Linked DNA regions of Homo sapiens: regions 1, 2 and 3 are each linked to region 4. The links come from fine-mapping of genetic effects on gene expression. A gene starts in region 4. Each other region holds a variant in brackets. All regions are shown on one strand. Distances are from middle to middle. Region 1 has its middle 61 kb from the start of GUCY1A1. Region 2 has its middle 93 kb from the start of MAP9. Region 3 overlaps GUCY1A1 (guanylate cyclase 1 soluble subunit alpha 1). Region 4 holds the start of GUCY1B1 (guanylate cyclase 1 soluble subunit beta 1).

What was found. PIP is the estimated chance that this variant, and not a neighbour inherited with it, causes the effect.
Region 1: its variant is fine-mapped to the expression of GUCY1B1 in fibroblasts (GTEx, PIP above 0.99).
Region 2: its variant is fine-mapped to the expression of GUCY1B1 in aorta (GTEx, PIP above 0.99).
Region 3: its variant is fine-mapped to the expression of GUCY1B1 in whole blood (INTERVAL, PIP above 0.99).

What each region holds. Positions count from the first base shown.
Region 1 is chr4:155,601,732-155,610,194 of GRCh38, reverse strand. No RefSeq gene overlaps it. Among named protein-coding and RNA genes, the nearest start is that of GUCY1A1, 61 kb to the left of the region's middle. The variant T/G (reference allele first, on the strand shown) is at 5,333.
Region 2 is chr4:155,465,983-155,474,445 of GRCh38, reverse strand. No RefSeq gene overlaps it. Among named protein-coding and RNA genes, the nearest start is that of MAP9, 93 kb to the right of the region's middle. The variant T/C (reference allele first, on the strand shown) is at 4,291.
Region 3 is chr4:155,677,138-155,685,600 of GRCh38, reverse strand. All of the region lies in intron 2 of GUCY1A1 (guanylate cyclase 1 soluble subunit alpha 1), which reads right to left. Among named protein-coding and RNA genes, the nearest start is that of GUCY1A1, 15 kb to the right of the region's middle. The variant A/G (reference allele first, on the strand shown) is at 3,512.
Region 4 is chr4:155,755,031-155,763,493 of GRCh38, reverse strand. GUCY1B1 (guanylate cyclase 1 soluble subunit beta 1) reads right to left here and starts at 4,473. Exons shown (of 14, transcript NM_000857.5): 1 at 4,351-4,473; 2 at 3,634-3,707. The coding sequence starts at 4,353. LOC105377506 (a long non-coding RNA gene) reads left to right here and starts at 5,079. Exons shown (of 8, transcript XR_007058484.1): 1 at 5,079-5,304. RefSeq lists silencers at 3,426-3,695, 4,146-4,295.

The DNA.
Region 1 (8,463 bases), 150 kb after region 4:
TTGGTGAGGGCAGATCTTCATTACGTCTGATACAAATGCTCATCTCTTCCAGAAACACCCTCAACAGACATACCCAGAAATAATGTTTGCCAGCTATCTGAGGATCTCTCAGCCTAGTCAAGTTGACATGTAAAATTAACCATCACAGCTGGAAAGATTTAATATGGTATCTGAGAATTAGTTGTGTGAAACTGATATTATGAAAACATTGAGATGTTTGGAAATGGCAAAATGAATAACTGAGATAAGATAGAGAATAAGATCACTAGAGGATAGAAGCAGGAACTGGGAAACAGTAATATTGCATGAATTGCCAAGAATGAAACTGATATTCTCAACTAGCAAGGCAAGACTTGAAGAGAATGACAGTGAACAAATATTCAGTTACAAGTTACTAGTAATAACCCAAGAATTCAGTGGCTTAATAATTTATTATTACCTCTCATAGTTTAGTGTGATAACTAGGCTAAGTTGAGCATGTCTTCTTGGAGTCTTTCCTGCAGTGATTGGCTGGGGGCTTTCCTGGGACTGTCAGCTATAGTGCCTTCTCATGGCCTCTCCATGTGACTTGGGCTTCTCATAACAAGAGGCCTCAGGGTAGTCAGCCTTCTTTCATGGTGACTGTCTTCTAAGAGGCAAGAAGCAGAAAGAGCCAGATGAACTAAGGGTTACATCCGGAAATGGTAGGTGATACTTTCACTGTATTCTATTGATTAAAATAGTCAAAAAGCCTGAAACAATTTAAGAATGTAAAGAAACAGACTCTAGTATGACATGGGAACATCCCAAGGTTACATTGCAAAAAAAAAAAAAAAAAGAAGTCAGGGTAATCTTTGGAAAATTCTGTTAGCCATAGACAAGGAATAAATTATAAGGTATTAGTGGCCTAGATGGGTGGAGGTGGCAAGGGTAACGGTATAACATTCATGACTGCAAAAAGGGGTTATTTAAGTAATAAATGAAGGCTGGGGCAGACAGAGCCAGTCGTCTACCAATATATATTTTAAAACATATTTTCCCTCTCCGGTAACAGAATTCTGAATTTATTCATTGAGATATTGTGTCTTAGTAAGATTTCATTTATCAACCTCACTTGTAATGAAAGATAGATATAGATAGATGTTCAATGAAACATAAACGAAAGGCCTTCAGTGGATATCCAGGAAAGGTCTTTAAAACTGGCAAAAACGTCTGATGTTTGCCTCTTGTGGCTCATTCCCCTGGTCTTCTCTCTCTTTCTGGAATATAGGTATATTAGTTTTCTTTTCTGCATAGCAAATTATTACAAACTTAGTGGCTTAAAATAATATACATTTATTATCTCCCAGTTTGTGGGTGTGGAGGCCAGACACAGCTTAGCCGGTTTTCAACTTCAAAGTCTTCCCAGGCTTCAGTCCAGATGTTGGCTGGGGCTGCAGTCTCTCTAGAGGTTTACAGGGGGAGGATCTTCTTCCAAGCTCCCTTGGGTTGTTGGCAGAGTTCATTTCCTTGTAACTACAGGCCTGAGGGTTTCAGTTTCGGGCTGGAGGACATCCTCAGCTCCTAGAAGCTACCCACAGTTCCTTGCCAGGTGGACTTCTCCAGTGTGGCTGCTCACTTCATGGCAGGTTGAGGGGGAGGACTCTAGGGTCAGTGTGCTAGCCAGACAGAGTGTGACATAATGTAACATAACTATGGCAGTGGCATCCCATCATCTTTGCCATGTTCTGTTGCTTAGAAGCAAATTACATGTCCTGCCCATGCTCAATGGGGATTCTACAAAGCATGAGTACCAGAACATGGAGACTGTGATGAGTCACCTGCAGGAATGTCTGCTACAATGTGGGTGACAATCACAATTCCAATAACTATCTTGTAATTTTGAAGAAAGGAATTAAGCGATAAGAAGAGCAAAACTTGGGTCCCTGAGGATTTCACAGAGGTGCTGAACCAACCTTGGAATACCTGCCTCTGATTTTATTACCTGAGAAATAAATCTCTAATTTGCATAAGCCCCTCAAATTTTATCACTGTCATGAGTTGCTGAACACAGTTCTTTACTGATTCAGGCACTAACCCTTTATTTTTACCACTTTTAAAATTATGTCTTAGGCATATAATTGTACACATCCTCTTCTTTCTTTTTTACAAAATTCACGAGAGACTAATGTTCCCCTTATTGTAGATAATCACATAAATTACAACAGCTTCCATTGTTAACTACAAACTAACGAGTCCCAAAATGATAGCTCCAAGATCTTCTCTTTAGCTCTCAGATTTCTTATCTTTGATATACCTAGACACTTTATATTCAAAAATACTATCTTTTCAGTTGCCCAGATCAAAAATATGATAATATCTCTTCAATGTGATTGGACATGTTTCCTTTAAGGTTTAAGTGAATAGTGCTCTATAATGGAACTCAAAACTGAGAAGAAAGCAGATGGTGTTTTAACACAATAAATGCCAAAAGTTATGCTGCAAGGAAATGTAAATCTCATCTCCAGAGCCCATATGGACCATTGGCAAGAGATTAACCATTGCTGTGGAAGAGCTCTGCTATTCCTAGATGCTCTGGCAAGACTAACAGAAGCAGAGAGAGAGAGAAGAATGAAAAAAAGCAATCTGTGGATCCCAGAGCAAGCAAACACATCCCAGGAATTGAATATTCACTTTCCCAGCCAGGCAGCATAAATGGCCGGGGAAGAGAATAGTCATGATTCACCATGCCTCTAGAACAGCACTGTCCGAAAAACTTTCTGCAATGATGAAATGTTCTGTATCTGCTCTGTCTAACAAGGCAGCTGCCCATAACACGTGGCTATTAAACACTTGAAATGTGGCTAGTGTGACAGAGGAACTGAATTCTTCATTTTATTTAGTGATAATTAAATTAGATCTAAATATCTTGTATGGTTAGGAAACACATTGGACCATATAGCTATGCAGCCTGTGAAGTTTCCTTTGATATATTAGGGGGTTGAAGTGGTGCTACCTGCTGGAGAAAGGGCAATGGAAGCCTTACCCTGATGGACAGGAGCAATGAAAAGGCCAAGACGTCTGAGAGAAATCTGAAGGGTGGAGTGTTGGGAAAAGAATAATTCCACATTGGGTTCTCTCCACACAGTGCTTAACATCCTTTAGTTAGCAAGTTAAAAGGGGTTTGGAAAGGAAATTAACAAGTTTTGGGGCTATAATATATATATTATTTTATTCTAAGAACATTTGGGTATTTGAACATCTAAAGTACCAGCAAAAGAGTATGTAGTCCTTTCATGGAAGATTATAGTTTTAAACAGCACTTTAGCCTGGGCGCGGTGGCTCATGCCTGTAATCCCAGCACTTTGGGAGGCCGAGGCAGTTGGATCACGAGGTCAGGAGTTTGAGACCAGCCTGGCCAATACGGTGAAACCTCGTCTGTACTAAAAATACAAAAATTAGCTGGGCGTGGTGGCGTGCGCCTGTAGTCCCAGCTGCTTGGGAGTCTGAGGCAGAAGAATCGCATGAACCCGGAAGGCAGAGGTTGCAGTGAGCTGAGATCATGCCACTGCACTCCAGCCTGGACAAAGCAAAACTCCACCTCAAATAAATAAATAAATAACTAGCACTTTAAAAATTATGAAAATAGTAACATTGTTATGATAAATATTTGGAAAATATGAAGCATCCTAAAAAAAATCACTGGTAATCTCATTACCAATAGCTTACTTCTGTAAAACTTTTAGTGTATAATATAACCTTCCAATTTTCTTTCTGTGTGTATCTATGTGTTTGTATTTATGTGTGTGTATACACGTATACATACATATATCCAAAATATATATACATATGTAGATGTATATATCACAACTGATACACACATATCAGTGTATGTAATACAATTGGTCCAATACTGCTTTGTTCCCTTAACAGTAGATTGTAAACATATTTATAGGGGTCCTCATTTATCTGCAATGTGATTTCAAATGGGAAGCAACATGATGAAGTGTTTTACCCCCGGACTTTGGAGCCGAACTACCTGGATTTAGGTCCCAATGTGTGATTTACCTATTGTGTGACATTACGCAAGTCCCTTATCCTTTCTGTACCTCAGTTTTCTCAATTCAAAAGGTTGCTGTGATAAGTAAATAAGTTACTATATGTAAAGCATGTATTACATCTGGCACAAAGTAAGCACTATATTTATGAGCTATTATTATTATCATTATCAATGGTTGGATACTATCCCATCCTATGAATAGATCATAATTTAAATAACAAATCTCAAAATATTTCATACCCAAAAAAACTTCTTTTTAATACCTATAATAGAATATAGCCATTATTTTAATTAATTCAAGTAATGGTTTATGTTATAAAAGATCAGGGAAAAAAGTAAATGAAGTTAGTTTGTTCTCTGTTGAAAGCAGATATTTAGAAAAAATAAGTTACAAGTACATAATTATTTTAATGGATATATATATACATAGAAATCATTTATGTTGGCATTTTTAAACTATAAGAGTTTCAAGAGAAAATGTAAAAGGAAAAAGTCATAGATATGTTTCTACAGGTTTAAGAGTACATATTCCACCAAATCTTTATATATGCAACATTGAGAAGTGTTGTCTTAGAATTAACAGGGTGTTAAAAATATTTTGGTTGTGTTCCAGTAAGAACTATCTACACACAAACAGCAACTCAACTGGAAAAAGTCTCCACAACAAAATTGGTTTCCAGAACATATATTTCACAGGGTCCATTGCTTCTGCTCTAATCAAACGATCCTTAGTAAGTAATTCAAAAGAACATCTCCATTGGCAATTTGCTGACACTGGTTTTCTTTTCCCACAAATTGAAAACACTGATTAAGGAAAATAATCTGACCAGGCATGTGAGCAAATCCAGTGCCTGACAGGAAATCTGTCTGAAATAACTCTTCAATGGGCCTCCCCTATTATCTAGATATTCCAATTCCTGTCTTGGGAACATGGGAGACTCCTTTGGGGCTGAGGGTAGAGATGAGATGGAGGAATCATATGAAATTGTTAGCTTCAATTTGTGACATGCAAGGTTAGACTGAGAAGGAGAAACTGCCTGACCAGGGTACATGTGTCCTGCTATGTAGTTATGAAGGTGTGGCGCTCCTCTCTATAAATATATTGCAGAATGTGAGATAGCTCACTATCAGAGAGTATATTATATTAAAAACTCTCTCTGTTTACTTATCTCTTCTAGCTTTGCCAAGTTCATAATTATATACTCTCTATGAATTACATTAAATAATTTAACATGTCTGGCAATGGCTCAAAACCTAAGACATATTTAGGAAAATGCCCAAGTTTCTGTGGTTTTTGTTCTAAGAATCCTGAAG[T/G]CTTAGTCAGAGACGTGGAGTAACTGTTGGGTCGTGGCCAGTGTACTTGAAGTGATGGTGGTTATGCTTGCTCCAAAGATCAAGAATAAAACATTTTTCTGATCCCAATCACCTTGAAAGCATGATCATTCTAAACTTTTTATGCTTTTCACTTCCAAAAAGATTTTCAAGGTAACCAAAAGTATTAGTTGATAATACAAAGATTTTTTTTTCAGAAGCATTCCAGCTAATACATATAAAAGAAATGTGGTAACTAGAAAATCATCAAATTGCAATTTGTAATGAAATAAATGATATAGACAACAACAAAAATTTGCTGAGCTAAGGCAAAGAATGAGAAGGTCTTCATCATGAGAAAAACAAATATAATTTGATCGGACTCTTGCATGGTTCTACCTTTGGTTAAGGATGCCCTGATGGTTTTTCTGCTATCTTCTGTATTTTCTTCACTAAGTATCCTTGTTCCTCCCTCCTTTCTTCCTTGAATCCTTTCTTCCTTCTTTCACTCCTCTAATAACTATTTATTGAGACCATGTTATAATTGGCATTGAAGATGCAAAAACTGTCCGTGTGCATTCCTTGTCCTGTCCTTCAGGGACAGTAATGAGTAAGAAAAGGGCAAAAGCGGCTGGGCACAGTGGCTCATGCCTGTAATCCTAGCACTTTGGGAAGCCAAGGCAGGTGAGGTCAGGAGTTCAGGACCAGCCTGGCCAAGATGGTGAAACCCCGTCTTTACTAAAAATACAAAAATTAGCCGGGTGTGGTGGCACGCACCTGTAATCCCAGCTACTCGAGAGGCTGAGGCAGGAGAATTACTTGAACCCGGGGGGCAGAGGTTGCAGTGAGCCGAGATCGCTCCACTTCGCTCCAGCCTGGGCAAAAGAGCAAAACTCTGTCTCAAAAAAAAAAAAAAAAAAAAATAGAAAAGGAAAGGACAAGAGCCAGACACCAGTAGGTTTGAATACCAGGTCTATCATTTCTATGCTGTGGAATTTGGGGCATGAGACTTAGGACCTCTGAGCTTGATTTTCCACTTAGAGTTATTGTGAAGATAAATGAGAGAGAACTCTCAAAGCACCTAATACAACCACGCAGTAACACAAGCACTTGAGAATGGTAAGTCTACTACCTTTCCCGTCCCCCTGCCCCACACACTGGTGCGTGAGAACAAAGAGTTCTTTCATTCCTAGCCCTGTCTCCAGTGTGGGATCTTTGGCTCTGAGCAGGGACCTGGACACTTCTGCCTTAGCTGCCCCTGTTGAATCACCCACATCCCCTCTTATGAGCTGTTCACGTCAGGCCTAATCACCATCAACTGAGGAAAGCCCACGGGCAGAAGCAAAGGGAAAATGGAATCTGGTCCAGCGATTCCAATTTAGCTTCCTTTAACCAAACAAGTATTGGCTGACAGGATGCAGCATGCCCACTTATACCACATGTACCAGTTCTGAGTTTCATTTTTATTTTCATAAAAAGTTGAAGCTACAGATGTGATTATGATACATGATATACTTCTGTAAACATAATATTCTTTTGGAAATATCTTTTCTTCCACGATCCGTTAACTCTATTGATAAAAATTAATACTTGGTCGATAACTCTCAAGAAAGAATCCTTCTCATCTGTCCTGGCCTCAAGCCTTTCATTCTGCTTTCAGCCTGACGCTCAGTGGTCTCTGTAACTCTTGGAATCTTAACTGTCTATGAACTCTCAAATCTGGAAGAGCAGGATTTCTTTATATTTCTCATACTCTCTTTTGCTCTCTGTGTCATGTGTATAATCTACAGTTTTAGATGGTTATGAGGGTTTTAGTTTCTCCCTTTCCCCTTGTTGTCCTGACAAGGGCAAGTAGGTTCTGATGGGCTTTGGGTGGGTGTTCTAGATAACAGATCTCCACAGGAGAAACAGAATTTGCATCAGAGCCTGTCTCCACCGCTCTCACAGGAAAGGCCTGTGCACAGGGACCTGAAAGTGAGGTCTTTAGCCTAGATAATGTCTTCTATTTCTTACATTATGTGACATTATTATGACTTTTTGCTACCTCTATGGGAATTCTCTTGTGAAAAATTACTGTAAACGATTTTTTTAAAAGTCAGTTACGATGATGGGAAAGGACAGGGCAATTAATACTTGATTGATAACTCACAAGAAAGAAATGTTCTCATCTGTCCTGGCCTCAAGTCTGTCATTCTTTCAGCCTGACACTCAAAGGTTTCTGTAGCTTTTGAAATCTTGACTGTCTGTGAACTCTCAAATCTGGAAGAGCTGGTTTCAATCAATGTAATACAAAGTACTGGTGGCATTCCTTAGGCTGGATAACTGCTCTACTAGGATCTGGGGAAGAACATCAGAGGCAGAGAGAGCAGCAAGGCCCTAAGGCAAGAAGGAAGCTGGCAGGTTGGAGAACAATAAGGACAATGATCAGACTGAGGCATAATTACAGAGGGCAGACTAGCAGGGATAAGTGGTTGGAGGCCAGATAATAGTCTCTTATAGGCCAGAGGTATGGTGGGCCAGGACAGATGTGGTTGAGATTGTCTTCTCCAGCACTTCAAGGAGCTGTGAGTTGAGGCAGGGGTTGAGATCGCTCCTTTAAATCTGGAGGAAAAGTCACCAGCAATATCTCTAGAAATAATGCTTAGTATTCTAATACCATGATACACTGCTGGAACCGATTTTTCAAAAGACTTAAATCGAACGTGTAACCTAGTGCCTTTTATATGAGGAGAGTTAGTTTAAGAAGAACCCAGGAGGCAGAGGCTGCAGTGAGCTGAGATCGTGCCACTGTACTCTAGCCTGGGTGACAGAGTGAGACTTTGTCTCAAAAAACAACAACAACAAAAAACCACAATGCGATACCACCTTATTCCTGCAAGAAGGGCCATAATCAAAAAAATAATAGATGTTGGTGGGGATGTGGTGAAAAGGGAACACTTTTACACTGCTGGTGGGAATGTAAACTAATACAATCACTGTGGAAAATAGTGTGGAGATTCCTTAAAGAACTAAAAGTAGAACTACCATTTGATCCAGCAATCCCACCACTGGATATTTACCGAGAGGAAAAGAAGTCATTGTACAAAAAAGAAAGAAAAAGATACTTACACAAGCATGTTTATAGCGGCACAATT
Region 2 (8,463 bases), 290 kb after region 4:
AATTTTTTGTATTTTTAGTAGAGACGGGGTTTCACTGTGTTAGCCAGGATGGTCTCGATCTCCTGACGTCGTGATCCGCCTGCCTTGTCTGACCAAAGTGCTGGGATTACAGGCGTGAGCCACCGTGCCCAGCCTTATGTACCTTCTAATACTTATCAAAGAAAGTTGTCTGCTGATTAAGGGCTCAGTTTAAAAAATTTAAAAAGAAAAATACACTTGGCAAATAGTACATTCCTGTTAGCTCCCTCCAGCAACACAGGTAGACCCCTGGTATTCTTAATATCATTCTCCCTCTCCATAAAAACTGTGGAAGGCTCTACATGAGAAATGTCTGTTTTTCATTTCTTTTCAGAATTTTGTTTAATGTTTGGATGACAACAAATACTAGTTCTGTTTTCATTGGTCAATTTTGTGTTCTGGCCCGGAAGTGTTGCATGCTTCTCATCATCATAGGCAGTATTTCCTGAGGACCTACTAAGTCTGCTTTCAATGGAAGCAATCAAGAGAGGGCTGAGCTTTCCTGTCTGTTTTGCACATATGCTTCTCTCTCTCTCCTGGGGAGAGGTTAAGGCCCTTGATCTCTATCCTTCCTCAGCAGGATCACCTTTTATCTACTCTGCTTCCCCAGGAGGACAGGGCACTAGAGTGGCTGCCTCCTCTGTTACTGATAAATTAATTAACAACCTGGGAGACTTCAATGATTTGGAAGGATCCTAAAATCCTCTCACTTGATGCTTTCACAAAATAGAATATGTTTATTCATTTTACAAGACCTATATTTTTAGATCAATGACCTTTGGATGTATGATTCATCCTGATTTCATTTTTTCCCAGCGGGTGGAGTTTCACATAAGCCTATTTAAAAACAATAAAGCAAGCAATGTTTTAAATGGAATATAATCTATTCTACACCTGTTTCCTCAGACTATTTTGATAGAAGTGAGTGGTTTCTATGATAAATTATACTTTTACTATGCAATATACGACTAAAATATTTATATATTTCCCATGATTTTTTAATGTCATTTTCAGGGAAATAGCCATACATAAAAAACAAGATATTTTTAGTTGAAATGACAGGATATTTTCTAAGCATAATTTAGCTGAGCAAGAATTTATTTTTTAGAGTTTTTCTCGGTTTTCTTGTCTTCTTATGTAATGAAAAATGCATCTGGATAGAAATAACTCCTCTGGATAAAAATTGTGTAACACAATCTGCTTACATGTTTTTGTCCATTTTGGTCACCAGAATCTTGATTGTAATGATCAAGAGTTTCCAATAGATCTTGATATCTCTATGTAACCATAGAAAATAATATTTACCTAGAGATAAGATCAAGATATAAAGACTGTCTCTTGAGGAGGACTGCATTTGCAATCTAGAAAGATAATTATAAAGTTTACTATAAATATTTTCTAATGATACACTATGACCATATTTCCCCCTTTGTTCTCATTCAGTGTCCTCTTACATTACTTTATGTATAAAAAGGAAACAATCCTTTCCTACCATCTCCACTTTGTAACTGGAATATTCGCTTGTTTCTCCCATCAGTGGATGAAATTTCCAATCAGGTACCATAAATTTCAGAATCGCTCTGGGATTGAGTGACCGTATAAATTATCATCCAAATCATCTCATTGTTGAAAGTGAAAGGATGGCTATTTATTATCTACACAAGGGCATCAGGTGAAATCAAAGATGGCCTATGCAAATCAGGGTATATAGTCACATTATTTTTAGATTATCTAAAAGTCCAATCTAGTTTTATCCACCACAATAACAAGCCTTCAGCTCTTGTCCAATTACTCTTCTCTCCAGCACCAATTCAAACCTGCTGCAAGACTGAAAGCCTACACAAAAAAAGGGGGCAAAGTGGGCTTTTTCTTCCTTGCCTTACCTCCTTCCCTACTTATGTGACAGTGCTTTGGTATATTCCCACATGGTATGTAGAAAATAAGAAAGATAAGAGAGAAACATGTCTCACCTGATGGATACAGTTGTCAAGTGGTATTGGCCATTAGACATGTTGTCCAAAGCAGACTCTCAGATTCCACACCGAGGACATAAGAATGCACTTCTAGTGTGGCAGGCCACGCCTCTCCTCTATAAGGGCATTTATGTTTCTCCATTCAACACTTGAACTTCTGGGGATTCTTTCCTCTGTGATATTTATCACATCTCCAGATAGTCCTCTCAGGTAGAGTCCCTGTCCAAACAACCCCAGGCTACCTCTCTTCCATAAAGCCCACAACTGGTCCATGGCAAAGACCCATGCCATGAATACAAGTGTGGCTTGCTCTCCGTACCACATCCCCTTGATCTTTCTGCTACAGACAGCCTCCTACCTTAGATTTCTCCTAGCAAGAATAGCCTCAGCCTGGAACTCCCCAGCCTTACGGAACACATGCTAAACCCTCTAAGGAATGTTCCTGAAGCCTCTCTTTTTCACTTGGTACAGGTGAGAGTGAAGCTCTCCACCATCTTCCTCTATGGGGAAGGGTGGTGGTGAGTCAGGGAATGTCAAAGGCACATCAGCACCTCACTCCGAAATGATCCCCACCAAAATCACTGGCCTTTTTAGCTCTCTCATGAAGGTTGGAGGTGAGTGATTGGCTAATGAAGATTTGCTTTTACTGTTTTGTAGTCTGTCTTGTATCAGTGAACCAGAACCTTGCTTTGTGCTGTGGAAGTGCTTGCCATTGATTGTTTACTTATTCTTGGCTTTTAGGGTCTCTGGAAAAACACCCAAGAATCAGGAACAAGCTTATTAAACATTGTGTTACCCATGAAAATGAAATGTGTAAATTAATGTACATATAGTGTCCAGTTCAATTACTGGCATATGGTAGGTGCCCAACAAATGATACCTTAAAACACAAAAATGGCCAGGCATGGTCACTCACACCTGTAATCCCAGCACTTTGGGAGGCTGAGGTGGGTGGATCACCTGAGGTCAGGAGTTCAAGACAAGCCTGCCCAACATGGTGAAACCCTGTTACTACTAAAAATACAAAAATTAGTCGGGCATGTTGGTGGATGCCTTTAATCCCAGCTACTCGGGAGGCTGAGGTGGGAGAATCACTTGACCCCAGGAGGAGGGGGTTGCAGTGAGCCGAGATCAAGCCATTGCACTCCAGCCAGGGCGACTGAGTGAAACTCTGTCTCAAAAAAGAAAAAAAAAACGACACCACAAAAATGAAGAGCCACTAAGGGACTCAGTGATCTGGCAACTTTAAATCTAATTTTCTAGGCTCCAAATTGCTCATCTCATGACCACTGCTCTAAGGTAACTACTTCCAGCTTCAGAACTCTTAGTATGGAGTTTAAGGAGTTGTTTATGTTTTGTGCAAAGGGCAGTCTCTAAGTAATTTCTCTTTATCCAGTGATTTATGTGGAAATTATATTCTGAAAATATCAGGTTAGGTAATATTGTACTACTCCTGATCCCTACTGAATCCTTTTTATATGTGTGTTCTCTGAAAGCAATGTTTTATCAATAGCAGTAGTTTTGAACTTTGAGACTCAGAGTGTTTTGTGAGAAGTTAATGAAAGTTATAAACCTTTTCAGTGGAAAATGCACATTCACACACACATATTTTGACTATAATTTCAAGAGGTCCTGTGTTTCTTGAAGCCCAATATTTGGAGAGCCTGGGTTGCAGGCTTCCCAGGTTCCCAAGAACAGAGTCTCTGCATTGAGATGGTGTGAGAGGAGAGGATGGAGGTGTTTATGATTATTCCACAGCCTTTTGGAGGGAAGATAATTTTTTTGCCTGGAATCCAAACCTAACAATAATTCCCCCTTGAGTAAGCATATGCTCTCTTTGAAACTGTTGCTTGTCTTGTTAAAACCATTGTCTGATCTTTCCTTCTTCCCTTCTTCCTGGCCACTACTACTGCCATTATTATCACCCTGCTTCATTTTATGCAAAGTCTAGAAGCATAAAGGGAGTCCTGGTGTTTATTCACTTCTTGCCTAATGATTTCACTTCAGCAAGACATCAACATATATGTACACATGATTGATTTCCCCTCAGTAACTTACCGTTTTCTTCAATATCATCAACGTCCATCCAAGCAGAGATATTGCAATGTCCATAGATATTTATCCTATTGGCTCATAAAGAGCTGTAAACACCAACATGTGGAGCTGCAAAGCAGCTCATTTTACCTAAATGATTGCATTAAGGAAGATTGATAGCCACAAAGAAGAGGTGGACATGGGCGGGGCTAGAGAGGGAAGAAACACATGCCATGGTTTTTTAGGCTAAATACTGCGAGTGGTA[T/C]TCATATGTGTCTCTGCTGTAGCAATGGTGATACTTAAGTCGTTGTTCCCCCTCCTTTTGGGACCTGTTTGGGACTGCTATAATAGCTTTCAAACAGTGAATAAAAATATTACAGACCATCAAACTTTCCTTAGAGGACTTCTTTTTTATGTCAAAGACCTTCAGTGAATGTGTTGTCTTGCTTTTCTGAAGAAAATAGTTTTACAGATGGAATGATATCCTCTTACAATTGTGTCCTGAGTAGAGTACAGCTCTATACATGTATATGTATATATTTCTATCCTCTGGCTTTTAATATCTTCTGACCAACTTTAGGGCAAAGACAGTAGTGAGAATATTGGTAGGGCTAGACCTTGGTAAATTATAAAATAAATGCACTGAATTCAGTCTTGTTTACTTTTCCTGCTCCAAGATACCTCTTCTAACTAAGCCTTGATATAGCCAAAGTATTAAGATAATTCCCCAAAACACGAACTAAAAAGCTAACCAAGCAGTCTGACAAGCTTGATTCCTAGCCATGGGGGCCTCTGAATTTTATTAGACTGTCAGCTCCTTGAGAGCAGAGACCATGTCTTTAAAAAAAAATCTATATTTGATCTGTAGTGCCTATGACAGTAATTATCCCAAAGTAAGTAGACAATAAGTACTTGAATGAATGAAAAAGGATAAAAATTTTATAATTCATTTTAATGTTGTATTTATCTTCAAGTTTATTGACGTGTTTAAGAGTTCTGAAGACCCTAAACAATAATTCCACTGATTGAAATAGCATAGTCTTGGATACAACCACCCAATAGGCTGGATGCATCATTTTCTGGTCCTTGTAGAAATTACACACCTTCAGGCTGGGCGTGGTGGCTCACACCTGTAATTCCAGCACTTTGGGAGGCCGAGGCAGGTGGATTGCTTGAGCTCAGGAGTTCGAGCCCAGCCTGGGCAACATGGTGAAACCCCATCTCTACCAAAAATACAAAAAATTGGCCAGGCATGGTGCCATGTGCCTGTAGTCCCAGCTACTCAGGAGGCTGAGGTAGGAGGATCACTTGAGCCTGGGAGGTGGAGGTTGTAGTGAGCCAGGGTTGAGCCACTACTGCACTCCAGCCTGGGTGACAAAGTAAGACTTTTTCTCCAAAAAAAAGGGAAATGAAACTATACACCTTCATTAATATTAAATATAGACATACATAATTATTGATGAAGAAAGACAGAGAAGCATAAATAACTGGTACTCAAAGCATCTCTATAACTCTAACTTTAGTGAAAACTCTGAGGGAGACTGCCTTATAAAACGGTACATTTGTCATCTGGATAACTGATCCTTCTGCAATGGGGTCCAGATGCAATAGCCTTATACTGAACTCCACTAATGGGAAAAAGTGTTACTGCCCCATTTCAATGTATGAGAAACCCACCAGAGATATCTGAGCTCTGAAGAGAGAATTTCTGTAGAGAACAGAGTGAGCCTCTTGATCACTAAAAATAACCAAGGATATTTATCAAAAAAAAATTTTTGGCCATATAAGTAGTATAAATAATCTCAGAGAAAATGTGTTGGTCTTCATCCTAAGATAATATTGAGTTTCTATGGGTATTTATGTGTTGGCAAAGGAAGGTAGGAGGAGTGCCAGTTTTTTTTATATACTTGTGCCCACAATAGCACCAAGTGATTTATCAGATGCAGTATAATAATAAGATCACTTGACTACCTGAAGGTGCAGGGATGCTTTTTTTCAGCTATTCAAAATAACTGGTTTTTGAGAACATACGGTGAAACACTGGCAATTTTCCAGTATACACACTGCATACTCACACATGCACACACATGCCCACAAGACATTGGGATTTTTAATTTTCAAAGTAAACTTATCTTCTGAGTTAAATTATTTGATAGTCAATACCAATAAAACCAAAAGTTTGAATGTCAAATGTGCACATCATTTAGTGTTGCATCCTCAACATTTGCCTAATGGTTACACTCAGTCACATGTGTACAGAGCTTTTACTATGGTCATATAAACACTGGGAGATAAATTTCTGAGTTTGTTTCTAGTCATAGCATTAGATGCATTCTAATTTTTCTCACTTTTCGAATTTACTTTATGATCAATTACATGACTGTGAGAATTTGCTCCAGGTTAGAAATCCAATTTGTGACCATAAGACAACAAAATTGGTTTGTATAGAAAGAAATCTTTAGCTGAAGTGATTATCCCTATTTTAACTAAATGAGTTTATTTTCAACATACTATTCTCAATGATAAAAATTGCATAATTTTTCAAGAATAATGCATATGCTTTATGTGATATAGCTTCTGCAGAGGATTTGTATTTTAGTCTTTATTGTGTCATGGAAGAAAAATAAGAAAGGAAATGGAAAACTTAAGAGTCAAGGTATCCTAGCACTTTGGGAGGCCAAGGCGGGAAGCTCACAAGGTCAGGAGATCGAGACCATCCTGGCTGACATGGTGAAACCCCATCTCTACTAAAAATACAAAAAATTAGCCAGGTGTGGTGGCACGTATCTGTACTACCCCAGCTACTCGGGAGGCTGAAGCAGGAGAATCATTTGAACCCAGGAGGCGGAGGTTGCAGTGAGCCAAGATTGCACCACTGCATTCTGGCCTGGGTGACAGAGCGAGACTCTGTCTCAAAAAAAAAAAAAAAAAAGAGTCAAGGTAAAAGTTGTATAAGTTAATCAAACATGTGAACTCACAGTGACCCCCACAGCTTGCACAGTTTGCAGGCCTGAACATATATAGATACACATGAATATGTTGAGCAACTTTACCCTCTTCACAATCTGGGGTACCTCTTCTGTTTCTATATTTGATCAGCAAAGGTCATCCTGTACTTACTCATCATTTCAAGTTAACAGTAGCTCTGGAATTTATGCTGTACTGCAGTAATTGTGTGTAATTCTACCCACAAGGAATCATGTGAAAGAAGAAGTCATTTAATTGCAATGAGATTAAGGTCAACACCATTATAAAGTCAGAAAGCAATAATGAAATTTTAAAACTAAAGCTATTTCAAGACATATGGTACAAAAGGAAGAGGCAGTGGGTCAGTGAAACTGGGTTCCCATTGAGATGTGCCAACTTCGTCATGTGACTTTACAGGAAACACATAGCCTTTCTGGATTGCAGTTCCTATATTTACAAAACAAATGAGGTGGAGTGGGTATCTGCTGAGTCTCTTTCCGGTTCTAGCTTTTCTGTTCTCATTCTGGAAGCTACAAGAAGGACAGGCAAATCGGGTATTTATCACAGATCATTGGCCTTCCTGAGGTTTAGTTCAAGGCAAAAGGGCTTCCTCTCACAGTCATTTTATGCTTCAGCAGAAAATGCAGAAAAAATGCTTCAGATAAGTATGAAAATCTTCATTAATAAAATCTACTTCTCTCATATTCTTAGTCATAATGCTTGAGAGACCTACCAAATCCTCTGCTTTGGTTCAAAAAAAGGAAAGAAGGCCGTGAAATACAAGCGTTACCTGGGACAATAGACATACTAGATCAATGTTTCTTACAAGCTTTGATTAATTTTTGACAATTTTACACTCTTAAAAATTACTATGTATCTACACAAAAACCTGCACATGGATGTTTTTAGTAGCTTCATTTATAATTTTTGCGAAAACATCAGAGCAACCAAGATGTCTTTTAGTAGATAAACAGATAAACAATCTGGCCTTTTCATTAGCTCTTAGTAGGATTACACATGCAAGCATCCCCACCCCAGTGAAAATGCCCTCTGGATCACCGGCTCAAAAGGAGCAGGTATCAAACATGCATGAATGCAGCTCAAAACACTTTGCTCAACCATATCCCCAAGGGAAACAGCAGTGATAAATCCTTAGTAATAAATGAAAGTTTGACCAAGCCATACTAATATTTAGGGTTGGTTAATTTTGTGCCAGCCACTGCGGCCATAAGATTAACTCGAGCTAATAGAACTTGGCGTAAAGAGTGTTTAAGGTCTACCCTCAATAAAACTAAGCTCCATCTAAGCTGTAAAAAACTCCAGCTGACATAAAATATACTATGAAAGTGACTTTAATATCCTGAAGACACAATAGCTAAAATCCAAACTTGGATTAGATACACCACTATGCTTAGCCCTAAACTCTAATAGTTATATTAACAAAACCATTCACCAGAGTACCACAAGCAAC
Region 3 (8,463 bases), 78 kb after region 4:
AAGGAGAACAAGAACAGATGCATCAATGGAGGCGGTTCAGGCGGTGGAGGAGCTGCGGAAGCTGGAGCAGGGCTGAGAGGGTCAGACAAAGCTAAGCTGTCATGCAGGAGAACACCAGGAGCTCAGTGATACATGAGCATTATATGAGACCTAAATTTCTATGTCCATAAATAAACTTTTATTGGAGCACAACCACACCCACTCATTTATGCACTGTCTATGGCTACTGTGTTCAAACTGTGCAGTTGAGTAACTGCTATGGAGGTCACATGACTGGCAAAGCCTTAAGTAGCTACTATCTTGTCCTTGATGGGGTCTGTTGACTGACTCCTGCTTTAAAGAGCTGTTGGGGACATCACATACATTATCTTATTTAATCTTCACAACAATCTTATGGGAAGGGTGTGTGAGTGTGTGTTTGTGTATTTTAGTATTTTTTACACAAGAAGAATCTGAAACATCGATCATGTAACTTGTCCTTGGCCATAGCTGGTGAGTGGCAGAAACAGGAAATGAACCCAACCCTATCTAACTACAGAGCTCCTGCTGTGGAGCTGCCTTGAGAAACCAGGAGCTTTTGACATATCATGGTGATTATTATTCAAGTTCCCCTACTAAAAAATGTAATCTGGGAAAACAAAGACTAAATTGTATCTGTTAAATTAGTGTACAGAATAAAATGAAAGATCAGGTTGTTGGGCATGTCAATTAAGGTAATGAAGTTTAGATATTCCCAAAATGAAGGCATGAGAGATGCTTCCAGGGTCCCAGTGAACTCTAAGGAGACTCCCTTTGAAAACTTCACTTTGAGCCTCTCTAGTTTTAGGCATCAGAGAAGAATTGAAAGGCAGCTAAAAAGGCTGTTGGTGTCTCTGCCACATTTAAAGGATCTTTACAACAAAGCCAAGGGATAAACTTTGGCAAAGTACGTTTCTCAGAGAAATTTTCTTTTATGACCCCAGAGAAAAGGCTCATAAAAGTGAAGTGTGAGATTCGAGGCCTGGAGACTCAGCAGATGTTTCTTTGGAGGTGGCCCAGGGGACCAGGCTACTAAGGTATTAGTAATTGATGGGTAGTCAGGTACCTTTTCTAGTTTTCTGACCAGCAGTAAAGCTCTTTCTGATTCTTAAGACAGGAAATGAACTTTTGTCATAACACTGGGACACAGATCCTTGATGCTTATGCTGGAATCAGGTTAGCAAAAGACGTGGCAAATTCCAACACAAACTCAATTCTGCCAAGTTTTTACATAATGATTAGTTTAGAAGAATCATTACCAGAAATGAATTTGGACTTCTGAACATATACTTTGCAGGTATATATTTGGATGCTTGCAAAGTCCATATTGAGAAAGGCTGAGTCTTTTCCCATTAAATCCAAACCCACAACTATATTCTTTTAATGCCTCTGCCATCTAATTGATTCAAAATAGAGAAAATTTAAAGAAATACCAAACAATTTTTCCTATTCATTTCAGTACCTCTTACATAAAAGTCAATATAAAGACAGAGTCATTTGCATAATAGGAGTTTAGAACTGGAAGAGGAGTTAGAGATTATTTATTGCAGTCCCTTCCATTTGCAGATGACAGAGTGCAGACTTCAGTGATGTGGCTCAAACCCCAAAGCTCAGGAGGTGTATAGGTGTATTGAGTTCACCCAATATACCCTGATGACCTCCTCTACTGAAAATGCTGAGAAGCCCTCCTTTCTTTGTGGACCACCAGCCACTGCAGGGAATACTTTGAGAAAACTTGAAAACTTAGTTATCTGAATTCAAATTTCACACTTCATCATCTTTTGAGGGTTAACATAACTACTTCATCTCAGACCAATCAGAAGATTACCTTTCGTCTATATATCATGCTAATATTAACATACATTATAAAATTGCTTTCACTGTCTACAGTTCCTAAAATGTTGCCCCAGACTCTTTTTCATAATTTTCTCATCTTCTTTTGCACTTTCTTGAGAAACTATCTTTTAGTCCCTTTTCAAATCTCTAAACACATTTTCTAAATAACTTTCCTCATTATCTTGTCTTTGTCACTTAATCAAGTTTGCTATTTTCCAGCCTTAATCAAACCAGCCAATGCAGGTCACAGTTTATCCAACTTTGGGACTGCCAATAATTATTTTCTGCTGAAATTGAAAGAACTACTGGCTCTGAGTCATCTGGTATAAACACGGAAGTGACATAGATAGGCTAACTAAATTGTTATTATTAAATTTATTCAATTTTTTTCCATTTATTTTCCCTGGATTCTTTGTATGTGAAGACACAAACACACCTCTGTAAATGACACACAATTTGACAAGCCATTTTTTTTGTTTTCCTATATATTCTCTTTTTCTATTTTACTTATTATTAGTGTTGTTTTTCAACTTTTTTCAGAAAAAGTGAAATCTCACTATACATAGAGTTTATGCATTTCCAAGGTCTGTGCTTGATAAAGAAATCAACAATGCTCATGTAATTTCCTATCCTCCTTTTGCACTTTGCTGTGAAATCAGCTAAATGAAAAACCATCCATGTTTCTATACTTGACTGCCTTATCAGAAACACTCAGCACAGAATCATCCATCATTTGGCCACTCAATTAATATTAACTAATCTCAATAAAATATATTAATATTAGGCTATTAGCTATAATCAATATAGGGGGCAAAACATGAACCAGAAAAAACATAAAATACAAATAAAAGAAAGCTAAATCAGAGTTTCTAAAATGTCTTGCTTATTGGAAATACATTTTAAAATGAGTTGTCAGTAGATCCATTTATAATTCAATCAAAATTTACTGTTTCATAAAAGGACAAAAAATATTCCTTTCTTTAATTTTCTTCAAAGCCTGATATGAGTGGGGTATATACACACACACACACACACACACACACACACTGAATTTTCTTTTCTTTTTTTTTCTTTTGAGATGGAGTCTCACTCTATTGCCCAGGCTGGAGTGCAGTGGCATGATCTCGGCTCACTGCAACCTCCACCTCCCGGTTTCAAGCGATTCTCCGGCCTCAGCCTCCTGTGTAGTTGGGATTACAGGCACACACCACCACGCCCAGCTAATGCTTTTGTATTTTTAGTAGAGACAGGGTTTCACCATGTTGGTCAGGCTCGAACTCCTAACCTCGTGATCCGCCCCGCTCAGCCTCCCAAAGTGCTGGAATTACAGGCATGAGCCACCGTGCCCAGTCGAATTTTCTTATGTATATATAAGAAATTTTATTAAATAGCTAATGGCTACAATAAAAAGGGAGAATAAGTAAAGATAGAGAGTTAAAACTGTTTATAAGAAATATCAGATTTAGGCGGTGGTGGCAAAAGAATCATCAGGGAAGCCTTCTTGGAATGTACAGAATTTGAGCTTATTTTTTTAAATGACTAAGTTCTGAAAATTAAGATTTTGGCAAGGGGCACGCCACAGAGAAAGAACAGTGTAAGTGAAAGCAAGAAATGAAGGAAATTGTGGGAAAGAGGCAGGAAAAGATGGCTACTAGAG[A/G]TATTATAAAATTAAAGTTGGCATGATGTGGCAACTCACTAGATCTGAGGAATAGAATGACTCTGAAGTTTTGTGTAGAAAGATATAGCACCGTTCATGGAAACAGGTAACAGAAACAGAGCAGTAGGCCTGAGAGAAAGGATGTTGAATTTGTTTTAGATACATGGATCTTGAACTGAGGTAGCAGGGAATCTAGGGTGGAGGTGCTTTTGAAAATCGGAGTATTTACTTCAGAAATGTGTAACAGATTAGAGATGAATTTGTGCTCCTCCCCATAGCAGAAACCATTATAGTCAGGAGTTTAACTAAAACTGTTTAAGATCAAGAGGCTACATATATAGAGAGAAGATAACCAAATTTAGAACTCCAGGGAATCCTCATGTTTAAGGACTGGAGAAAGTATTATGACTATGACAGAGAAGCAGCAATTAGAAAAGTACAATGAGAATGAATATGAAAGAGGACACGTGTTCGAAAAGAAGTGTATGTCACAAGTCTGAAGAGGGTAAGGAGGACTGAGAAAATATCATTTGATTTTTAAATTAGAAAGATGTTTATGGCTTTTAAGGCAAAATTTTGAATAAGAATAGTAGACTGAAAGTGGAAGAAAATAAGGAGTTATAGTGATAAAGTACTACACTGTAACTGAGTACAGATTACATTAAGATCTGTGGATTGGGAAACAGCAAGTTTGAAAGAAGGATTGTGAGGATATGAAATCCTTTTCTTTTGTTACCTATATTTGTAGCTTTCTGTAAATAGAAATACTTACTATACAGAGCACAAAAGTTAGCTCAAAGTACAGGGTCTTTGACTTCTGGTTAAATTGCAGAAAGTCACAAGAGACTCCCACTCCAACACTAATAATGAGAACAAGTGAGACAAGCTCTGCAATCATAATTTTTTTAACCCATCAGAAAGCATCTATGAAAACTATAATTATTGAGTCATACTTGATGATGAAAGACTGAACACTTTTCCACTATTATTCAGGACCAAGCAAAGATGCCTGCTCTCACCACTTCTAATCAATATTGTACAGAAGTTAGGTCCTAGCCATTGCAATCAGTTAAACAAAAGGCCAAAAGGTTGCAGGTTTATGTGCACGTGTGTGTGTGTGTGCATGTGTGTGTGTGTGTGCATGTGTGTGTGTGTGTGTGTGTGTGTATCCAATCGACCCTTGAACAACACAGATTCAAACTCCATGGGTCCACTCATATGCAAATTTTCTTCTGCCTCTGCCATCCCAGATGTAGCAAAACCAACCCCTTATCTTCTTCTTCCTCCTCCTGCTCAAAATGAAGACAACGAGGGTGAAGATTTTTTATAATGACCCACTTGCACTTAATAAATGGTAAATATATTTTCTCTTCCTTTATGATTTTCTTTGTAACATTTTCTTTTCTCTAGCTTACTTTATTTTAAGAATACAGTATATAATACATGTCAATCAACTGTTTATGTTATCGGTAAAGCTTCCAGTCACCAGTAAGCTATTAGTAGTTAAGTTTTTGAGGAGTCAAAACTTTTATGTGGATTGTTGACTGTGCAGGAGTGTCAGTGCCCCAACCCCTGTGTTGTTCAAGGATCATACACATGCATGTGCACACACACACACACACACACACATATACTTAAAATTGTTCATGTAGGAATTCCCAGTGGATATACAAAATAACTAGAACTAAGAAGTAAATTAAGCAATGTTTCAGGATACAAGACTGATATACAAAATTCCATTATAACTTCTGTACTAGCCACAAATACTGGAAAATAATTATTTTAAAAACTCATTTATGATACTGTTAATAAATACTTAGCAATAAATCTAACCAAAGGCTTACAAGACTTTTACACTGAAAACTACGAACATTCACGAGATAAATTAAGGAAGGTCTAAATATATGGAGAGATATATACCATGTATAATATTGTTAAGGTACAAATTTTCTCTAAACTGGTTTATAGATTCAATGCAATTCCAATCAACATCTCAGCCATCATTTTAGTAAAAATTGACAAAATGAGGCTAAGATTTCATTGATGACATAGGATAGCCAAATTAATATTAAAGAAGAAAAAATAGCACTGAAGGACTTATATACCTGCTTCAAAACTTAAAAAGTTAAAGTAATCAAGAAAGTGAGGTATCAGTTTGAAAGGGGTGACAAAGAGATCAATGAGATAGAGATCCACAATTGTGTTTACAACAAAGGTGTCAAGGCAATAAAATCAGGAAAGAAAATATGTTTGTTTGTTTTTTAATAAAAATGCCATTGGAACAACTGGAAATCCATATAGAAATAGAAATAAACTTTTATCCACACATCATACCATATACAAAAATTAAATCTTAATGGACCATGCCATGGTTTGGATATTCGAACCTTCCAAACTTTATGTTGAAATCTAATCTTCAGTGTTGAATGTGGAGTGAAATGGGAGATGTTTGAGTCATTGGGCAGATCCCTCATGAATGACTTGGCACCGTTCTCACGATAGCCAGTGAGTTCTTGCTCTACTAGTTCCTTCAAGAGCTGGCTGTTACACAAAAGCCTGGTGTCTCCTCTCTCTCTCCCTCGCTTCCTCTCTCTCTCAGTAATCTCTGCACACGCTGGCTCCCCTTCACCTTCTGCCATGAGTGGAAGCAGCCTCATGCTCTCACTAGAAGCAAATGCTGGTGCCATGCTTCCTGCACAGCCTGCAGAACATTGAGCCAAATAAACCTCTTTTGTAAATAAATTATCCAACTTCGGGTATTCTTTTATAGCAAAATAAACAGACTACGACAAATCGTAAACCTAAGTACGAAAGTTACAACTATAAAACTTACAGAAGAAAACATAAAAGAAATTCTTTGTGACCAGGTTTGAAGCAAAGATGCTTAAATTTGAAAAAAAAAACATGAAATATTTAAAAAGAGCATGATAAAGTGGACTTCATCAAAATAAAAAAAATACTTTGGCTCTTCAAAAGACATTATTACATAAACAAAAACACAAGTCATATACTAGAAGAAAATATATGTAACACACAACAGCAAGGGAGTTTAATTCAGAATATACAGTTTTCCAACTCAGTAAGAAAATAAACAATTCCATTTTAAAATGGGCAAAACATCTGAATAGACAATCATTAAAGAAGGTATATAAACAGTCATAAACATTTCTTCATATGCTCAATATTATTAGTTATTAAACAAAAACCCATTAGAATGGCTAAAATTCTAGAGTTCAGCAATGTCAAGAGTTATTGGCAATGTGGAATAACTGGAAATCTCACAGATTACTGGTGGGAATGGAAAACAGTTTGGCAGTTTCTTAAAATGCTAGACATTCAACAAATGCTATTGTTTATAAGCAAAACTTGGGTAATTCACAAATCATCAGGAAAACTTGCAATGTGGGCAGAAAGGTTACCATAGTAATTACCATAGTAAGTAAAAGTGTGAACCCTCCCTGGCTACAAATACCGGTTCCATTATTAATTAAATGTATGACATTAGGCAAGTGACTTATCTACTCTGTGCATCATCCATTTTTTCATCTGTAGAACAGTGATGAGAATAGAACATTCCTCAAGGGATTTGATTAAAGTAATGCAGTTGTATTAATGCTTGGAATGTAAAATGTACCTAAGAAATGTTCACTATTATAAACTGGACTTGATATAAAATTATTGTAAAAACCTTTATGTTTACCTTGTTCAAGACACATTTGAGTTAAAGCAGCATTTCTCGAAATGTGGTTTGCAAACTCTTGGGGATGTCCTGAGACCTTTTCAGAGGATATGCATGGTCAGAACTATTTTCATAACAATATTCTAATATTATGCACCTTTTTCATTCTCATTCTCTCACAGATTGCAGCAGAGTTCTCCAGAGACTACATGACATGTGATGATGTAATCATTCTAATGGAATTTATATTTGTGTAGAATTTTCTAAATTAGTAGGTTTAAAGTATAAGTGTACATTTTTGGAGATTAACGCAGTTTGTTCTCAGAACTCTATTATTTTTCCTAACTATCAGTATACTTGTTATAATGTTTGTAATTTCATTATTGTCTAATAATTTATTATTTTGAAATCTTGAAGTTTTTCTTGGTCTTAAATGTAAACATAAGAAGTAATTCCACTTTGCTAATTTTTTATATAAACTTATTATTTTAGATTTTAATATTTATTCTAAGACCAAGTCTATTGATTTTTTCATATATATACATATATATATATTTTTGAAATGGAATCTCGCTCTGTCAGTCAGGCTGGAGTACAGTGGCACGAACTTGGCTCACTGCAACCTCCGCCTCCCAGGTTCAAACAGTTCTCCTGCCTCAGTTTCCAAAGTAGCTGGGATTACAGGCACCCACCACCATGCCCGGCTAATTTTTGTATTTTTCATAGAGATGGGGTTTCACCATGTTTGACCAGGCTGGTCTCGAACTCCTGACCTCAGGTGATCTGCCCACCTTGGCCTCCCAAAGTGCTGGGATTACAAGTGTGAGCCACGGTGCCCGGCCTGATTTTCTTCTTATATTTAAGGATGGATTCTTGGCTTAAAAAGAGGAAACTAGAACACTTTTTCAATCCACGGCTGCACTATCTAGGACTGCCATTGTGAGCTTATAGCTATCCAATACTTAAAACTTCCTGATGAGATCAGTGGTGATAGTCATGAAGGCTAACTTTTGACACTGTATAATGAAGTGTGTCACCATTTGGAAAATGTATAAATTTCAATGGACCAATATTTTCCAAATGACTGTGATCCTACATATAAGCTGATGAACAAAATCATGTATGAGTAAAGGATCCATTCCCAAGCATTCTTCAGGATCTTTCTCTTATAATCACATTACCTAATCTTCCCTTAGAATCTTTCATCAACTAATCTGATTATTTATTCACTCACTCATTCATTCACATATGCCAAAAATATTTATTAGGTACC
Region 4 (8,463 bases):
ACTATACTCATTAAAGATAAACGTTTTATCTGATTTATTTAAGTCAGGACAGTGTACTTTCTTTACAGACTTTTAATCATTTGGGATTTTTCAGTGTTTTGGATCTATCTTCCTAATTTGTATGTTTCAGTGAGGTTAAAAAATCTAAAGTTGGGCTGGGTGTGGTGGTGCATATAATCCAATACTTTGGGAGGCCGAGTCAAGAGGATCACTTGATGACAGGAGTTTGAGACCAGCTTGGGCACACAGCAAGACCTGTCTCTAACTGCTTCCCTCCGCTGCTACCCAGAAAAAATATGGAAAGAAAGCAGAGAAAAAATCTAAAATTAAACCCAGTAATTTGACGCAATGATGAGTTTAGTCAGGGCTGATGGAAGGATAACAGAGATGGGAAATCAAGTATTTAGGTGCTTTTCTAGGATGTATCACTCCTAACTTTATTTATTTTCTACCCTGATAATTTTTTTGTCATTACTTAGAAATCATAGCCTCTTAAAAGGACTATTTGAATATTGAAATGAAATCAACAAAAAAAACTTTGAAATGGATTCAGAGGTCTCTTTTGCTTTTTCACATTTGTTATGGTCTAAATCAGAGGTCATCAAACTATAGCCCATGGATCACATGTAGCCCACTTTGTCTGGTTTGGTTGTTTGTTTGCGTTTTCCTGGTCCAAGAGCTAACAATGGTTTTAATATTTTTAAGTGGTTATATTTTTAATAGTTATATTGATTCCTACATAATATCCTCAGTTTTACCTTGGCCTGTAACACCTAAAACATTTACTATCTGGCCCTTTAAGAGAAAGTTTGCTGGCCCTTGGTCTAGACAATTTTTCTTCTTCTTAAGAGGAATTCAAAGCTTTTGTGAAATGGTTATATTGTTGGTAAGAGTGTAAGTGGATACTGAGTTTACAATGAAGCATTTTTGGCCCTTATCCACTTAGAATTTTCTGTCTGCTGTCTGGAATCTGTTACTTAGGGTTTTATTTGTCATTAAATGTTTGGCATCTTTTCCCATCCTTTCTCATGAAGGATGGATGGCCATTTCCTAGTGAAGCAAAAAAGTATAATGTAAATTTGTATAAACATCAATTTAGATAGTTTCTCAAAGACCAAAAGAAAAAATAAGAGTTTGGTACTTACTGAGACAAAAAAAAATGTTTTTCCTCTTATATTCAATTTCTTATAAAAGTTAAAACTGAAAGCATCTTGGACCAATGACTGCTTTAATATTCCCTGAAGCAGAGGGTAGGGAGGGGAGGAGGAACCAGAATCACCCAAGGAGCATTTTTCAATTACACTCCTCCAGGTTCTCCTCCCCTCTCCCCAGGCAGCAAGATTCTTTTCTGTGGAAAGCAAATGCTCTCCCAGGGAGCATTTAGTAATTACTCAGGGGTATTGGGTTGGAAACCAAGGAGCAGCTTTAATGCCCTCAGTGCAGAGAGTTCAACCATGTTCTCTAGCCCAGACACTAAACCACACCCAAGATCAGCTGGGGTCCACCAAAAGATGCTTAGACAAATAAAGAATCAACACTAACACCTGGATTACCAACACCAGTGTGACTAACACTTTTTCCCTTGCAGGGGCATAACCTTGAGGCAATTTTATTTAAGAAAAGACCAATATAACTTGTTTCATTTTTACCAGAAAAATTGTGTTGTGGATGATTGGAATTTTTATCCTTTAGACAAATTATGAATACTGTTGGAAGCTACTTAAAGATAAATTAGTAAGTTAATAAATAATTTTTTAAAGTAGAATGGAACAATATTCTCAGCTTGATTTTGCAGAGTTAAATTCTCGTCAATTGAATCTTTACATATTTGGACTTCCTCTGGGAAAATATAAGCAATATAAACAAATCTCTGGATAATTTTAACTTTTTAAAATGTCTGATACATTACTCTATAAAGTATTATTTTTCATCTCTGTATTTAACAGTGATCTAAACTGATAATGGCTAGGATATACAATCTAAATCTGGTTAAATTACATAATGACTGTTTAATCATAATAGCCATCTTTTATTCTGCTCTAAAAATTCTAAGCATATTCATTGTCATAGCATATCTACCAGCAAATTTGGGAATTTCTATCTTACAGATGCAAAAGCATCATATGGAGAATATATATATATATAGCATTTATAAATTTACAAAGGAAGTGGCTTAAAAATAATTCGGTAGTTAAGTTATACTGTTAACAATCTTTTTTTGATGTCTGCCTTGTTGATATCTGTCTACTAAGCAAAATAAAAATTATAATGGTATTAAGATGGCCAGAAAATTCAAATCCTAAAGTAACTTTTGGTGCCTATGTTCTCATTGGATTCAACCACATACTTGCCAAATCTCGGCTTCTGTTTATAATATGTAGGTAATATGCCCTGTGGATAATACAAATGGTTTCTGAAACATGAAAGAAACGCTCAGTGATACAGATCCAGGGGAAAGAAAAGTTACATTTTCGTGCTTAATATATAACCCTGGTCATTTCTATGGAAACAGATCGTTATGAGAAATCACCATCATGTAACTGCATAATAAGGCCTGTTAGAATTGATTGCTAATAATTGTAATGTGCTTAGGGAAAAACAGCATGGAAGCCTCACCTACCTGAGACAACAAAATGAAATCACTAAGTACAGGAAATCAGAGTGAATAATAACAGTGTATTCCCATCTGCCCACCCAGGAAACCCTTCCTTCCACCTTTGTTACAATGTGATAGTCTGACTGTTGCTCTAATATGAAAATCCATAAATAGGGTTTTGGAGTAGCTAGTTGGTGGTGGTCAGCTGTACCATAAGTTAAATGCAAATTTTTTGAGAGTGAGAGGAAAAAGGAGAGACAACTTTATTAGAGTGAAATAGTCAACCTGCCTGCAGACATGCTGACCCATCAGTCATTCCAACAGGTTTAAACTCTCAGGTGGGTGTGGTATTTCCGTTCACATCCCCAGTACTGGGCTCAAAGCTCCAGGACTGAAAGTAGAATGCCTCCTAGAACTGTTAAGTCTTCAACACAGTAGAAAAAAACGGGGGATAGGGGTTGGGGCGGGGGGGGTGGGCAGTGGGATTTGGGGAAAACAAAAAACTTCCAATTTTCACTTTATTTAAAAATGAATAAATGCGCTTAATTCACTGTTGCTCAAGAAATAATCTCCCGCGTGTTTCAGCATACCAAAAAGGCCTAACTTACGCCAGGTGTGTAAATCATAAAGGAGCCAAAGTCTTCCGTTTGTTTCTAAGGCCTCCGGGCGCAGGAACCTCGCGGAGGCCCGTGTGGTCCCTCGGGGCTCTGCACGCGTGGGAGCTGCCCGGCCTGCTGAGCCTGGGAGCGCCGGCAGCGCGTTCCCACGCTCAGGCCGGGTCGGGAAGCCGTGGTGACCCCTAGGGGCTCCTTTCCGCGGTTCTCGCCCTCGCAGCCCCGCCCCAGCCGCCCCTCCCCTCCTGGTTCCAGTCCCGGAGCGTGGGAGCGCAGCTGCAGCGAGCCGGGAGCGAGGCGCGGAGGCACCTCCAAGGATGCGCGCCCGCGACCCGGCCAGCAGGCTGAGGACCAGGCGAGGCGCGGGGGGCCTCCCACACTGGGCGCCGACCTGGGCCACAGCCAGGGTAGCCGGCCACTTACTTGATGTCTTCCCACACCTCGGGGCCGTAATTGCGGATCACCAGCAACTCCAGGGCGTGATTCACAAATCCGTACTGCGGGGACAGGGAGAGACTTGAGCGTCAGGGACCCGCTGTACCTGAGAAGCGGCTTGGGGGCGAGGCTGCTGCCTCTGCTCCCATGGCGCTGGCTTAACCTTTCACCCCGCCCCTGACTCCTCTCCCTTAGGGGTACTATGCACTAAAGGAGTCGGATCGTGGGGGCGCAACCCCCCAATCCCTGGTGGATTCTCCCCGTCACCATCCGCCCCACCCCCACGCTATCTTCCCACCCTCCTCACCTGTCACCGCTCCGGGAGAGGCTGGGCATCGGGGGCAGCGCGGGGACGCGAACCCGGAGCCTTCCCTTCCGCTGGCGCTCAGCCTCCCACACTGGTGGGGCCGGCCAGAGCCGGGAAGACCCCACGCCTCCGCCGCACCTCCCCTTCCCGAGCTCAGGAAGCTGCGGTGTGGAGCGGCAAACCCGCCTGGGAAGCAAAGGCACCGATCGCCCCCGCCACGACTCGCGGCGTTCCCACCTCCCCTGACTGGGCGCGGGCAAGGAGTGAGGCTGCTCCCGTGGCCGGCAGTGAGCGCCCAGGGCCCCCGAGCCAAGCTCCGGCTGCGCGGCCAGTTCCCTCGCTGCCAGGCCGGCCGAGGAGGGGTGAGGTTCGGGCCGCACCCGGCTGAGAGCACTTACCATGGTGTCTGCACCGGGAGCCGGGGAGGCAGCCCCCACGCAGAGGTACGGCCGAAGGGACCCAGGCAGAGGCGGCAGCGGCTACAGCGCAACCGGGCCGGGGAGGCAGCATCGAGCTGGAGCGAGAACAGCCGCCTTGGCCCGCCCTGATTGCCACCTCTTCCCAGCCAATGGCGAGTCGAGCCGCAGGGGGCTGGTCGGTGCTCCCCAGTTCTTCAACCAATCAGGGACAGAGGAGGGAATTCGGATGCTCTCAATGCTGCTGCGCTCCAGTGCCTTCCCGCCCCCGCCTGGTGACAAGGCCTTCATTTGAGGCCATAACAATGACAGTGGAGAAGCCCCAGCCGTGCTCCTTGCATGAATTCTGGAGCAGAGGAAATGCAGCTCTTGTGGACCCACTAAATGTATTATTATTCAGAGATCTGCCCTCAGTGGTTAACACAAGCAAAAGGGAACAGGGCGTGTTTGTTGTGTGAGCGTGTACGTGTGTACTTTGCAATGGACAGACCTTAAAAGGAATATCCTCTGTTGCTGGCATCCTCATGCTTATCTTTGTCTAGCGGAAAAACATTTCCTCTGTGGCTTGGTCCCACAACAGTTTATGGCAAATTTAAAGCTGGTAATATTGAGAAAAACATATTTTCACTTCTAGTCAATGAGACTAGTTGAGTGAAGCACCAAAAATTTTCAGTAATGTAGTTTGGTGGACGTTATGTTAAATCCAGTCCTGCCCTTTACTAAACTGTACAAGATCCAGCGATATTCTAGGCTTGATCCCTGTGGGACACCTTTCCCTACACCATGTCCGGGAGCCATAATTCCAGGGAGTTTGTAACCCTCTAGAGCGGGCCTCTGTTGCTGTTTCTTAGCAACAGACGAACTGGAAAATGACCAGTACAAAATGCACAGACTTTAACTACTCTACCTCCAGCTTACATTCTACCAGGCCCTTAGGTTAGTTAATGCTCTGAGTCCTGCCATAGAGAGAAGATGAGAGGAACAGGAAGTGGCAGCTTATTAAAGCTGTTTGTACCTGAGGTATATGGACTCCAGTTGACTTTTAGGGCAAGGTCAAAAGTGAGGTCACCAGTCTCAAGTGGACCTGAGAAGCCAGATGGTATTTTAAGATGTGCATATTTTGTTGTGAGAACAGTCTCAATATGGTTAGAGAAAAATGTCAAAACAATAAGATTGTGCTGACATCAGCACCGAGAGAGCTATGATGAAGGAAACTGATACAGAAATAGTGGCATGTAGCAAACAAACAAAACAACAAATTACTTTAAAAATTTCCATTATTGGTGGAATGAGTAAATAGATTACAGCCTTTCATACAATCTAACACCTTGTTTTAAACAACTATTAAAACATTAATCATTATTTAACAACAATTAACCACTAATTTTGAACCATTAAAATGGCACATTAAACAACCATGAAAAAGCAGGAGGGTGACTAGAAAATGATGATGCAGAAAAGTATTGTCAGGTTTACAAAACACCACAAGAATGTAATCATTTTCCATTTTTTAGAGTTAGTATACAGTAAGGTGCTATGTGGGTAATAACACAGGCACATACATGTTGCTGTAAGAATAATGGTTTGGGAGGAAACACAGGAAGTGTTGATATGGCTATCGTCTGTAATTAGAACCAGTGGCTGGAATGGCCATGACTCTTACTTTTTATAACTTTCTGTATCTTTTGATTATTTTTCTACACAGATGAATTTTCTTTACTGTTACATAACTGAATTTTTTTTAACTTTTATTTTAGTTTCAGGGGCACATATGCAGGTTTGTTATATAGGCCAATTACATGTCTTGGGGGTTTGGTGTACAGATTACTTTGTCACCCAAGCACTAAGCATGGTACCCAACAAATAGTTTTTTGATCCTCACCCTCTTCCCACCTTCCATCCTCAAGTAGGCCCCAGTGGTCATTGTCCCCTTCTTTGTGTTCATGTGTACTCCGTGTTTAGCTCCCACTTGCAAGTGAGAACATGTGGTATTTGGTTTTCTGTTTCTGTTAATTTACATAGGATAATAGTCTCCAGCTCCGTCCATGTTGATGCAAAGGACATGATCTCATTCTTTTTGATGTCTGCATAGTATTCCATGGTATATATGTACCACATTCTCTATCCAGTCTACCACTGATGGACATCTAGATTGAGTCCATGTCTTTGCATATAGTGAATTCACATATTAATTCACATATATTCACAAGTATTCATTTTGTGAATAGTTTATTTCATTCCATGTGACTAGTGCTGTGATGAACGTATATGCATGCATGTGCCTTTATGGTAGAATGATTTATACTCCTTTGGGTATATACTCAATAATGAGATTGCTGGGTCAAATGATGTTTCTGTTTTAAGTTCTTTGCGAAATCACCAAACTGCTTTCCACAATGGCTGAACTAATTTACATTCTCACCAGCACTATATAAGAGTTCCCTTTTCTCTATAACCTTGCCAGAATCTGTTGTTATTTGACTTTTTAATAATATACATAAAATAACTTTTAACTTGCTAAAAAAACTTAAAAAAAAAAACTATGTCTCTTATCTGTTCACCTTTGAGCAGCAATGGACCCATGCTCTCTGGTTTACGGTGTGTTGTGGTGTCCTCCACCTTAAACTTTACATAGGCAAAAGATAAGGAGATTGAATTGTTCTCTGGGAATGAAAAATGAGGAAAGCTCACTTAGAGAAAGATATGAGAGGAAATGAATAATGAGCATTTCTGCCAATGTCCCTTTCTCTCTGTCTCTTTCTCTCTATTTCAGTTCTTCTACCCTCACTTTCCCTTTTGTCCAATAACTTTTTGCACTTGTTGTTGTTTTTGTCCAACACATTTTTGCATTTGTAAATGTTTTTACTGTTTTATTTTCCAATTGTCTTATATTCATTCTGAATCTAAAAGAAGTTCTAGACACTAAACATTTACTGACTTTTGTTTGGCCTACAAGATATTACACAGGCTGTGATGTTCAGGGACAGAAGGATGCCTGCCAGCTGTAGAGGATCTCAAAAGAGGGGTCACCATTCTTCTATAAAAGCTCCCTACCTGTTGTCATCACTGCTGGCCAAGTAGCATAGGAATCATATCAGGAAGTAGATTATGCTATATTCTCTGAACAATGCATTGCATTCTTGTATGTATGCCCCAAGCTGAGGAGGATCAGTTAAAGATGAAAAAGAAGAGCTTAGGGAATGGCTTAGCCAGCCCTAAAATCAACATGAAGTTCAGTCTAATGAATGAACAATAAGTAAAAAGGCAATATGTGGCTTTCAGAAATGTCAGCTGAAGTGACTCACATTTTCAGCGAATAAAAATAAATTACTTTGGTAAGTTAAGTATTAAAAGTATTGTAATCGGCCGGGCGCGGTGGCTCACGCCTGTAATCCCAGCACTTTGGGAGGCCGAGGCGGGTGGATCACGAGGTCAGGAGATCGAGACCATCCAGGCTAACACGGTGAAACCCCGTCTCTACTAAAAATAACAAAAAATTGGCTGGGCGTGGTGGCGGTCTCCTGTAGTCCCAGCTACTTGGGAGGCTGAGGCAGAAGAATGGCGTGAACCTGGGAGGCGGAGCTTGCAGTGAGCCCAGATTGCGCCACTGCACTCCAGCCTGAGTGACAGAGCGAGACTCCGTCTCAAAAATAAATAAATAAATAAAGTGTTGTAATCATTGTTTTCAAGGCTTTGCTAGTTAATGTGAAAATTAGAAACCTTTGATTAAGGATAAAGGAAGATACATATATATTTGGGGGTGTTCCCAGGTCTGTGCATGTGTTTGTCAAAGCTCTGGTGTTTTGCCAGTTTTTTCTGTGGCTTCCATTTTTAGATCATTTTATGGAGCAGCATGTCATTTCATTTCAACTATTTCTTATACAATGATTTGCTTTATATTCATGTGCCTCTTTAATCTCTGTGGCTAAGAGCCGAATATTGATTCTTTGTGAAGCTTCTGCTGCTGGTCTTGGTTAGTCGCACAATAATCACATCTGTTGTCATTATTTTTGCTAATATAGTCACTCAATACTTCAAGCAAGGAATTCAGAATACTTACAAGCAAAGAGAAAAGCAAATTCTAAATGACACATT